Regions from separate parts of the Homo sapiens genome. Here region 1 is linked to region 2. The links come from fine-mapping of genetic effects on gene expression. A gene starts in region 2. The other region holds a variant in brackets. All regions are shown on one strand. Distances are from middle to middle.

What was found. PIP is the estimated chance that this variant, and not a neighbour inherited with it, causes the effect. A credible set is the group of variants that fine-mapping cannot tell apart.
Region 1: its variant is the best candidate, but not a certain one, in a credible set for the expression of CACNA1I in whole blood (TOPMed, PIP 0.67).

The regions. Positions count from the first base shown.
Region 1 is chr22:39,673,142-39,678,352 of GRCh38, reverse strand. CACNA1I (calcium voltage-gated channel subunit alpha1 I) reads right to left here. Exons shown (of 37, transcript NM_021096.4): 29 at 4,320-4,390; 30 at 934-1,012; 31 at 245-366. Among named protein-coding and RNA genes, the nearest start is that of CACNA1I, 100 kb to the right of the region's middle. The variant G/A (reference allele first, on the strand shown) is at 2,813.
Region 2 is chr22:39,567,706-39,572,916 of GRCh38, reverse strand. It overlaps CACNA1I (calcium voltage-gated channel subunit alpha1 I), which reads right to left and starts at 2,164. Exons shown (of 37, transcript NM_021096.4): 1 at 1,929-2,164. The coding sequence starts at 2,164.

The sequences.
Region 1 (5,211 bases), 110 kb before region 2:
CCTAGAATCTGAGCCCTGATCCCAGGCAACACTGGGGGATGAGGCAGTGTAGACAGGGGGCCTGTTCTGGCTCAGCTCTCCCCACTGTGCTGGTCCTGGGCAGGCCCCTCCACTCCTCCGTGCCCTGCATGCCCCTCCCATGTGTGGTGGGGCCCTGGGTGGGCAGAGCCCTGAGCAGCAGGACCAGCATCCTCACTGTCCCAGCACCTGGCTGATTTCTCCACCCCAGCCCGCCCAGGAGTACCTTCATGATCCCGTTCCAGTTGTCACCCGTGGAGACCTGGAAGAGTGTGAGGAAGGCCATGCCGAAGTTCTCGAAGGTGGCATGCCGGCTCATGCCCTCGCACGGGTTCTCGTCGTTGCAGACTGGAAGCGGGGAGGAGGTCAGCCCTGCCCGATGGCGGAGTGCCTGCGGGGCTCACCCTGACCTGGTGCCTCCCGCCTCGCCTCAGAACCCTCATCACACCCTAGGAGGGGCCTGCAGACTGTGCCCAGCCCACAGATAAACTGAGGCTCGGGGAGATGGCACATGAGCTGGGGCTCAGGTTTGGGTGAGTCTGGCTCTGCTCCCCGCCGAAGAATGGGTTTCTGAGAAAGAGGGTGAAATGGGGTGAGGGCCAGCCCCTCGGGGAACCCTGCTTTCTGGAGCCATCCCGGTGCAGGGCGGAGCTCAGCGAGCGCTCTGTTGCTCTTTCCCCTGCCCTGGCCTCTCCACTTGCTGGGGTGGCGCTGGCTCAGGACAGGCACCAACACCGGGGTAGGGAGGGCAGTTTTCCTGGGAGACCAGACAGCTGAGGGCCCTGCTGTAGGCATCTCCCCAATACAAAGACCCTGATGTGACGGGCTCAGGGGTCTCAGGCCTCCCCCGCCCCCCCAGTTCCTCCTGCAGCCCTGCTGCACCCCCACCACGGGCCTGCTCTGGGAGTCACTCACCCAGCTTCCCAAAGAGCTCCACCCCGAGAGCAGCATAGATGAAGAAGAGCAGCATGAAGAGGAGGCCCAGGTTGCCCACCTGCGGGAGGACAGGTGAGGCCGGGTGGGGCTGGGGAGCGGGTGGGGGCGCACCAGGCCTGGGAAGGGTGGAGGCTGGGGCAGTGGGGTTGGGCAGCCTGTGGGTCAGAGCAGCTGTAACATTCCCCCAGGCTGTGTGTCCACGTCTGCCACCCCTACAGGACCTGGAGGGCAGGCTGGGTCCAGCACAGGGCTCAGAATAACAAGAAAACACTTGTGCCACCTTTACCACAAGCTGTCCCATTTCCAGCACTTAAGGTTCATGAGCTCACTTCCTCCTCACAATAATCCACGAACTATCTTTTATCCCCATTCTTCAGAAGAAGAAGGAGACAGACTGAGAGGTGACATCACTTGTCCAGAGTCGCACAGCTAGTAACTGGTAGGACAAGGGTCCAAACCCAGCAGGCTGGCCCCAGGGTCCATGCACACAATCTATGCTACACGCCTTGAGTGGCTACCAAGGTTGAATGGATGGATGAACGAAGGGAAGGGAGAAGGCAGGAGGTCTCAGCTCTAACACTAGCTCCTCTACGAAACCACCGAAATGCACTTATCCCTGTCACTGTCATCTGCTGGTCTGGGAAATCTTCAAGAGCAGGAACACAGCTGCATGAGGTCAGATTTGCCTCCTTGGGCCAGCATGAGGCCTGGCCATAGAGAGGAGGGAAGGCAGGAATCACGCAGGCCCGTGGGCCCCAGAAGCCTCTGCAAACCCAGCCACCCCCATCCCACAGCTCCTGTGGGAGAAAGCGTCCCAGATTCCAAACCTAGTTCAAATCTATCCATGCATTGGAGACCACCTTTAACTCATGCTATGGATAAGATAAGGCTAAAACACATTCTTGCCCTAGAAATGAAATATCTCTTAGAACCCTCAGAAGGCCTTAGAACCCTCAGAAAACGTTCACGTTAACTGCTGAAAAGTAAACCCCATTAATCACCACTCCTCGAGTTTCTCCGCTCCACTCCAGAGCAGGGTTTCCTGGCCAGCCGTTCTACACTGCTAGTGTCTGACTAATTAAATGATGTTCCCTTCATTAATAAAACAAGCACTTACTGAGCACCCGTGAGGCCAACTGTAAGGCCCTGACCGCTGAGAAGGATCTGGCGTGGTCGCGGCTCTAGGAATTCAGCTTTGTGCCCTGCACAGGCCGGCGGGGGCAGCATCTCTTAACCAGGATTGCCGTCAGCTTTTCTATCTGTCCCCTCCCTGCTGTCAGCATCTCAGAGCCGGCAGGGTTGCAGCAGCCTCCTCACCAGCTTCCCTGCCTCCAGCCTCTCCCTCCAATCCATTCTCCTCCCAGCCAGCAGAGCCACCTTCTCAAAGGCAGCTCGGCTGCAGCCTTCCTTGTCTAGAACCCTCCTGTGGCACCTGCTGCCTGCAAGATAAAGCCCAATTCTGCTGCCCTAGCACTGAAGGTGTGCTGTGACCTGGCCCCCAGGGACCCCCCTCCCAGCCTGATCTTCCAATCCCACACACTCCAGCCACACAGAAAACAGCCCCACAGTGCCTTGGCATATTATTTTCCCTCTGCAGGGAGGACCCTCTATCTTTGCCTGTAAAATGCCTCCTCCCCACCCCTCAAAGCCCAGTCCATGGGTCACCTCCCCTGAGAAGCCTTCTCTGATGCCTCCTCCCTCTTCTTGGGGCAGAGACTGGTGGGAAGAGGCTGAAGTTTCATTTTCCTAGCACTTTACGTAGAATCGAGGAAATGGCCAATGTCCATACAACAACATGAGCAACAGCAAATGGATTTTGAGGGGTAAGCACCATTTCACGGCCAGTGGCACTTGGCAC[G/A]TGCTTCTTCTCAAGTGCTAATGCACTTGTAATGACTACCTTGGGTCTCCTGCTGGAGGCTGGGATGTCCTGAACATCTCCATGTGCCGTGCCCCATGCCAGCTCCACACTGGATTTGGGAGTCATGATAGAACCGCCCAGGGGTCAGAGCATGGGGAAGGGGAGAGGGAGCAAGGAGGCCAGGGAGGCCGAGCCACACACTCACCATCCCCACCCCTAGCAGCCTCTTAAATGGCACTTCTCATGAACCAGACCTCTTAAGTGCTTCATAAGCTTTAACCATCTGACACCTCACCGCCGCCCTTTGAAATAAGCGCTTGAGGGAGCGATGCTTCACCACCATCCTCATTTCACAGGCAAGGAAACTGAGGCACGAAAAGCTAAGTCGCATGCCCAGGGCCCAGGCTTTGCTCTCAAGCATTATGGCCCAAGCCGGGGCTCCAATCTACTTCCTGTCGGCACAGCCTGCAGCCCAGCATCACCCCCATCTCCCATGGGACAAAGTCCCCTGAAGGGGTTTAGTGTTAGGAAAAACCACGTCTCTGAATGAATGCCCTTGCTTTCCATCCAGACCATGCCACTTTCCCTTTATACCAAGGCTGCTGGGAAGCTCACACCAAATTCAGGAACAGAACTCACCCATGTCCTTAGCCCCGGTCCCCGAAAGAATTAGCTCTGCTTCCACCTTCCCTGGGCCATTAATCTTGTATCCTCATTTTTAATGTGCAGTATCTGTGCCTTGTATTTTAAGGCACCTAAACTTCCTGATGACTCGTTGAGTCATAATGAATAAATGTGCCTGAGGCTCAGCTGAGAGCAGAGGCCACCCTGAGGGGAGGGGGAAGGGGAGCCTCAAGCAGTCAAGACAGCGGGGGAGGGAAGGACTGGGATTGCAGAATTCTCGGGAGGATGAAAAAGATGCCCTCTGTGGCCCTGATCACATCTCCCCTTTCACTAACCGCAGGGTGCGGGTAGAGCAACTTCCCTAACTTCTCAGATCCCCACCTGGGTCAGGGTCTCATGCTGCCCCTCCTGGAATGCCATCTCGGAACTTCTCCATCCACACTGCCACCTCCTTCTGCCAAGCCACCCTTGGAAGTCAAGCTCAAAGGTCCCCTTTCCTAGGCTGCCTTCCCTGATCTCCCCAGGGAGTGTCTGGCACTCTTCTCTCTCTCTGGAGCATGCTGGAGGTCCCTCCCCACATCTCCCTGAAGTATCCATCTCCCTCCACCAGCCTGGGGGCAACCAAGGGCACAATGTGGACCCTCAGTGCGTGCACAGGGCTGGACACAGAGTGGCACTGGCAACCACATGGTGAAACTGGAAGAAAGAGGCATAAAGGGACCCTTCCTGCCTCTCAGCCCCTGGCTCAAAATGCATCCCCAGAGACAGCATCTGCCCTGGCTCTGGCAGATGTGAGGAGAAGGGAAATCAGGGCCTTCATGCCCCAGGGCCCAGCCTGACACCAATGACCCCTAGGAGGGCTGCCAGAAAGAGTGGCTCTTACCTGGGGCAAAGCTTGCACCACCGTGTCCAGCAGGGCCCGCATTCCTGTGGCCATCTTCAACAGCTTCAGCACTGCGGGCGAGACCCAGCCCTGCCCACTCAGCCCCAGGCCGGTGGGGACGTGTGTGTGCACGCATGTGTGCACGTGTGTAAACTTGGGAGAAGAGAACATGAAGGCACGTGCAAGCAGAGTCTGGCTCTCAGATACCACATTACAAGAATGTGGGTGCAGCCACAGGGTGAGTGGGGCATGCACAAAAACATGTGGACACAAGGCGTGGGTGTCACTGTAGAAAAGCCCCCGAGGACGGGGCATACTCATGGAAACTGAGGTCTATGAAGTGTGTGAATGGGTGGGCCATGAACTGTCACGGGCACAAAGGACCAGCGTGAGTGGCCACATCTCTTCTCTTCCCCTCTCGATAAAGAGGACTCTGGCATCACTCGCTGAGTTTCTGGCAGGCAGAAGAGCAAGAGGCACCTGGGCTCGCCCTGAGGCAGGAGGCTTTTAAAAGAAGTGTACGAACTACCTTGAGGGGAGGGAGAAGGATCTCTGAAGACCGTGCGTCCCAGTCACTGTGTTTGAGAAATGCCAGCGAGGAACTGGAGGTGTTTCACATCTTCCCAGTTGGACTGGGTTCCTTGCATCACACTCTGAGACTGGACCCCATGGGTCATGGCGTCATAAGGAAGTGGGAGTGTGTGTCCATGTGTGCTATGCAAAGTTGCCTGTGTGTTGGGGGAGGTGTGTGCACACAGAGGGTGCATGCGTGTGTGTTGGCTGTGTGCCTCCCAGCTCCTTCTCACCCCTGTTCAGCAAGGAGCCCACCATGCCTGCAAACTCCTGCCCCCACCCCTCCCCACCCCACTCCTGTGTGTTCTCATCAGGCAAT
Region 2 (5,211 bases):
GGCATGGCGGTGGGTGCCTGTAGTCCCAGCTACTCGGGAGGCTGAGGCAGGAGAATTGCTTGAACCTGGGAGGCGGAGGTTGCAGTGAGCCGAGATCGCGCCACTGCACTCCAGCCTGGGTGACAGAGCGAGACTCCATCTAAAAAAAAAAACTAGCCAAATGGGTGGTCCCTGCTTCCCTCTTCCCCGGGCACTCCCTGGGACAGACACCAGCTCTGCCTCTTTGTCCTCAGTGTCCCAGGGCAGATGTCAGTGAGTGCTGGGTGAACTAATTACCGAGCAGACCCTCTCACCAAGCCTGAGACGCTGTGAGCCGTCCCCCAGAAGGAGCAGGGAGGCTCTTAGCCCCCACCCAGCAAGGAACACCCAGTTCTGCATCCCACTCCAGCAGAGACCCGCTGGTTTCCAAAAGTTAGGGGGATCCAGGGCCCACGATCACCTCAGCCCCCTACAGAAGGGAAGCCTGGCAGTCCTGCAGCCAGTCTCAACATCCCAGCCTGCATCTGGCATCCCTGGATTCCAGGGCAGGACTCAGGCCTGCACCTGACCCACCAGCTCCCCGCACCCTGCCCTGTGTGGCCACAAGCACCAGAACCTCGAGCCACATATGGGCATTTTTTGGTGGGACCCTCAAACCACAAGGCCACCATGGCTTGGGTCCCCAAGCCTCCTCCTCAGTGGTCCCCAGCCCCCACTTCACCCTGCAAGCCAGTGCCACACAGTCCTTCCAGAGCACAGATCTCTCCAGACCCTGCTTCAAATCCTGCCCTTGGAGCACAGTCCCATCCCTCATGCAGCCTCCAAGGCCCTGCAGGGCTCCCGCCACACCTGCAGCCTCACCTCACTCCTCTCTGCCCCTCAGGGCTCCAACACTGCCTGCAACTCCTCCCTTCTCCAGGCTTCGCTCCTGCCATGCCCTCCTCCTGCCTCCCACTACCCTCTCTACCCAACCAACGCTCTTCCTTATTGAGGAGTCAGCTCTGGCATTGCCCATGTACACCCAGCAAACACTGCCAGAGCACCCACGATGTGCCAAGCACTGTGCCAGGTGCTAGGGTCCCCATCCCAGTCATCTGACAGTACCCCAGGGGAGGCAAATGTTAGATTCAGAATTCCACAGTTAGATGTGACAGTTAGATATGAAGCAGAGGAGGAATCCCAGAGGGCTTCCCTGAGGAGGTGATGCTTAAGCTGGGATTTTAAGGATGTAGCAAAGGATTTGGCCAGGTCCAGGGGGAAGGGAAAAGCTTTTCAGACAGGGGGAAGAGCCAGTGAGAGGACCCTGAGGCTCAGAAGAGCACAGGGGGGAAGCCAAGTGGTGGGAAGTGAGGCTGGGTGGAACACACAGGCCCTGATGGGTTGGATTAGGACTTTGCTCTGCACCTCCAGGACCATAGCAAATCATGACAGTCTTAAGCAGGGGGAACATGAGCCCACTGGAGGCAGCAAGTGGAGGCAGGAGGCCTGGGAAGAGGCTGCTCGGAGGCACAGTAAGGAGAATGAGTCCTGCCCTGTGTGTTGGGATCGGCTGCCCCGCTGCCCACGCCCACAGTTCCTGATCACGGCTCCCATCCTCTGTATGGTCACGGCCCATCAGGTGGCTCCAGAGTCTGACTGATCTGCATTCCCAGCCCAGCACAGGTCTGGGGCCCACACTCAAGGACTTTCTGAGCCAGCCAGCCACTGGACTGACCCCACAGCCACCAGCAACTTCCAGAACCTTCACATCAGCAGAACACCAGGTCCTCATCCATTTGAGGTCTCCCCAGACCCACCCTCTGAGCTCGCTCACCACCACCAAGGCCCAGTGGCCTCACCGCAGACCTCAGGTCTCCCAGCCGGAGCAAGGTGTGAGCAGCAGGACTCAATCCAGCCCCCCACCCTTCAGCCCCTGCAGGGCCCCGATCAGCCGAGGCTGCGGAGGATATGGGTTGCACACCATCTTGATGCACCAGTTCCGGGGGCTGGTGGTCTGTCGCAGGCAGAAGAAGGCAATAGGCGCCAGGTCTGGGTGTGGGACATGAGGATCAGCTCCATCCAGAGGCTCCTCCAGGCCTGGCGGGGAGGATGGGGGGCTCCGGGGTCCGGGCTGCTCCGTGGTGACTCCTGGCTCAGCGGCTGGGGCTGCTGCAGATGAGGAGGGCGGGGAGGCGCTCTCAGCCATGTCCACACTGAGCTGGGAGCCCTGGGGAAGACAGAGAGGGTGGCACGTGGTGGGGACAGGCCTGGTACATGCTCCCCAACCTGCCTCTCCACCAATAAGTGGACGGATGCAGCTCTGACAGCCCCACCTGAGCCCCACAGGCCCCTCACCCTCACTCTTGCATGAGGATTACGAAACAGCTGAGGGCCCAGCTGCACCCAACTTGGAATCTGCTTCCAAGCTGGGTGATCATGGGGCAAGTCTGCTCACCCTGGCTGAGCCTCAGTTTTGGCAAACGAAGATAGTGGGGAGAATAAAGCCTTCTTAGAATATAATTGTGATATTAACTCTTTTTTTTTTGTCTATTGGCAATTTTCTGTATTTGAAATCTTTCATTATTTAAGAGAAAAAATGTTTAAGTAATTATAGACAGAAAAGAAAGACGGAAGGGAGGGAGAGAGGGAGAGAGGGAGGGAGGGAGGGAAGAAAGGAAGGAAGGAAGGAAGGAAGGAAGGAAGGAAGGAAGGGATCTTAACTTTTTTACAAGACTAGAGCTATGTATTTATTGCACCATCAAAGGTAAAGAAAACTTGCAAGAAAAAAGAGGTGATTGTAAAGACAGACATTATTGCCAGGACAATGCAGGTTACAAAGGCAATGTTGGGGTGCTGCAGAATCAGAGACTGGGGGAACGCTGGCAAGCCAGGAGGGAATCACAGTTGGCTTCCCTGAGGAAGTAACCCCTGAGCTGAGACCTACAGCTGAGCCCTTGACCCAGGGACCTCCCAGCCACTGCCTTACAAGGCTGAGAACCCAGGAATCTTAGAGTCTAACCTCCTTGCCTTACAGATGAAGAAACCGAGGCCCAGAGAAGGGACAGGACAGACATGTAGCAGAGTAACAGCAGAAATAGAATTCCAGTCAAAGGCCAGGCACGTGACTCACACCTGTAATCCCAGCACTTTGGGAGGCCAAGGTGGGTGGATCACCTGAGGTCAGGAGTTTGAGGCCAACCTGGCCAACATAGTGAGACCTCATCTGTACTAAAAATACAAAAATTAGCTGGGTGTGGTGGCACACGCTGTAATCTCAGCTACTCGGGAAGCTGAGGCATGAGAATCACTTGAACCCGGGAGGTGGAGGTTGCAGTGAGCCAAGATCACACCACTGCATTCCAGCCTGGGCAACAGAGCAAGACTCTGTCACCAAAAAAAAAAAAAAAAAAGAATTCCGGTCAGAGCCCGCTTCCTGGGTCTGTGGCTCAGGCAGCTGCACAGGGCCCCGTGCTCAGAAGGGCCCTGAACTTGCTTTAGAATTCTTCTGTCACCAACATGAAATTCTTAATTGCTTATCAAGAGGTCCCACATTTTCATTTTGTTCTAGGTGATGCAAATCATCTTGCTGGCTCCGACTCCAACTCAAAGCACTTCTACTCCCTGGCCTTGTCTGATGCTCACAACAACCTCAGGAGGACTATTATGCCCATTTGGCAGGTGAAGAAACTGAGGCCAAGAGAACAAAGCGGGTTGTCAAGGCTATGCACCCAGCCAAGTGAAGCACTAGGTGGTGTTGAGAGGCCAGAATCCCAGCACCAGACCCCCAGGCGGGCTTCATGACAACTGATGGTGCCCTCGCTGGCCGAGAGCCTCCGCAACCAGTCAATGGCAAGATGGGACGGACAGCCACTCCCAGGGCCTGCCCCTCACCACCTCACCCCAAAGGGTACTAGTCCCTAAAACTTTGTCCACTGGGGTCCCTGGGATCCTAGAACCCCTACAGGGCCAGTCTGAGCCGTGGGATTGAGAGATGGGGTCCACGTCCCTGGTGCCCACCCAGCTGCTGCTGGGCTGTCGACCAAGCCACCCGGAGCTGATGCATTTGGACATTTCTCTGGCTCCCGGGGGCAACGGGCAGGGGTTGGCACCTCCTGCCACTTCCCCTGGCTGGTCAGGGAGGCGGAGTTTTCTCCTGAGCTCAGGGCTTTGCTCTTGATTCCAGAAAAACAGCCACGGGCCTTACATAAGCTCCCAGGCACCTTGGCCTGCCACGTGTCAACCTCCTGGGCTGAAACGCACCCTCCCTAGGGTGGTTCCAGCTCTGCCCACCACCGTGCCAGCCTCGGAGCCCACCACTCCCTCCCCTGGCCATTTGCTCTGGCCAGATTGGACCTCCTCAGGTCCTAGGCCCTGCTCCCGCTCTTCCCTCTCACTGGGGCACCTTCTCCTTCCGCCCAGGCCCTGTTCTCCCAGGCCCTACTGATTCATTCATTTGCCCAATGAGCACCTACTATGTGTGGGCACTGTGTGGGCTTCGGGCTATGCTGGGGCACGAGCCAGACTCAGCACCAGCCCCCATTCAGCCCACACTTCCGCAGAGGAGAGAGACACACCGATCAATTAATTTCTCTCTTTCTGCTTTTCCACAACTCTTATCACCATCAAACACGGTGCATAATTTATGTCTTTATATCTCCATGATTTGGTGTCTGTCTCCCCAGCCTAAGAGAAGCCTGTAAGGGAGGTGTATCCCCTCACTGCTGTATCCCCAGCACCTGGAATGGTGCCTGGAGCATACTAGGTGCTCAATCGATATTTGTTGACTCAGTGAATAAAAAGTGCTGGGAAGTAAATAAACAAGGGGAAAGGTGGGAGTGGAGACAATCATCTTGCCCTCTCTAAAGGAAGAGATGTTTAAGTGAAAACCAAGACGCGGGAGGCCGCAGCCCTGACTGATCTGCTGGAAGAGCACAGGAGGAAGAGCACGTGCGAAGGCCAGGAGAATGGGGCCCGCTCGGTGCATTTAAGGAACACAAGCGAGGCCGAGCCTCGGGCAGGGAGGCGGATGAAACCAAAGAGTTCAGCAGGGCCCTGGGGGAGAACACAGAGGAGCGTGGGTTTTATCCCAAGTTCAGTAGAAGCCACAGGTGGGTTTTAGGCAGGGGAGTGGTGTGCTCTGGTCTGTTTCTAAGCCATCTCTCCAGGGGCTGAAGGGAGAGTGGATGAAGGGGAAGGGGTGGAGCAGGAAGGGCTGGGAGGAGCTGGGCTGGCCTGCCCTTGGCTGCTGGTGAA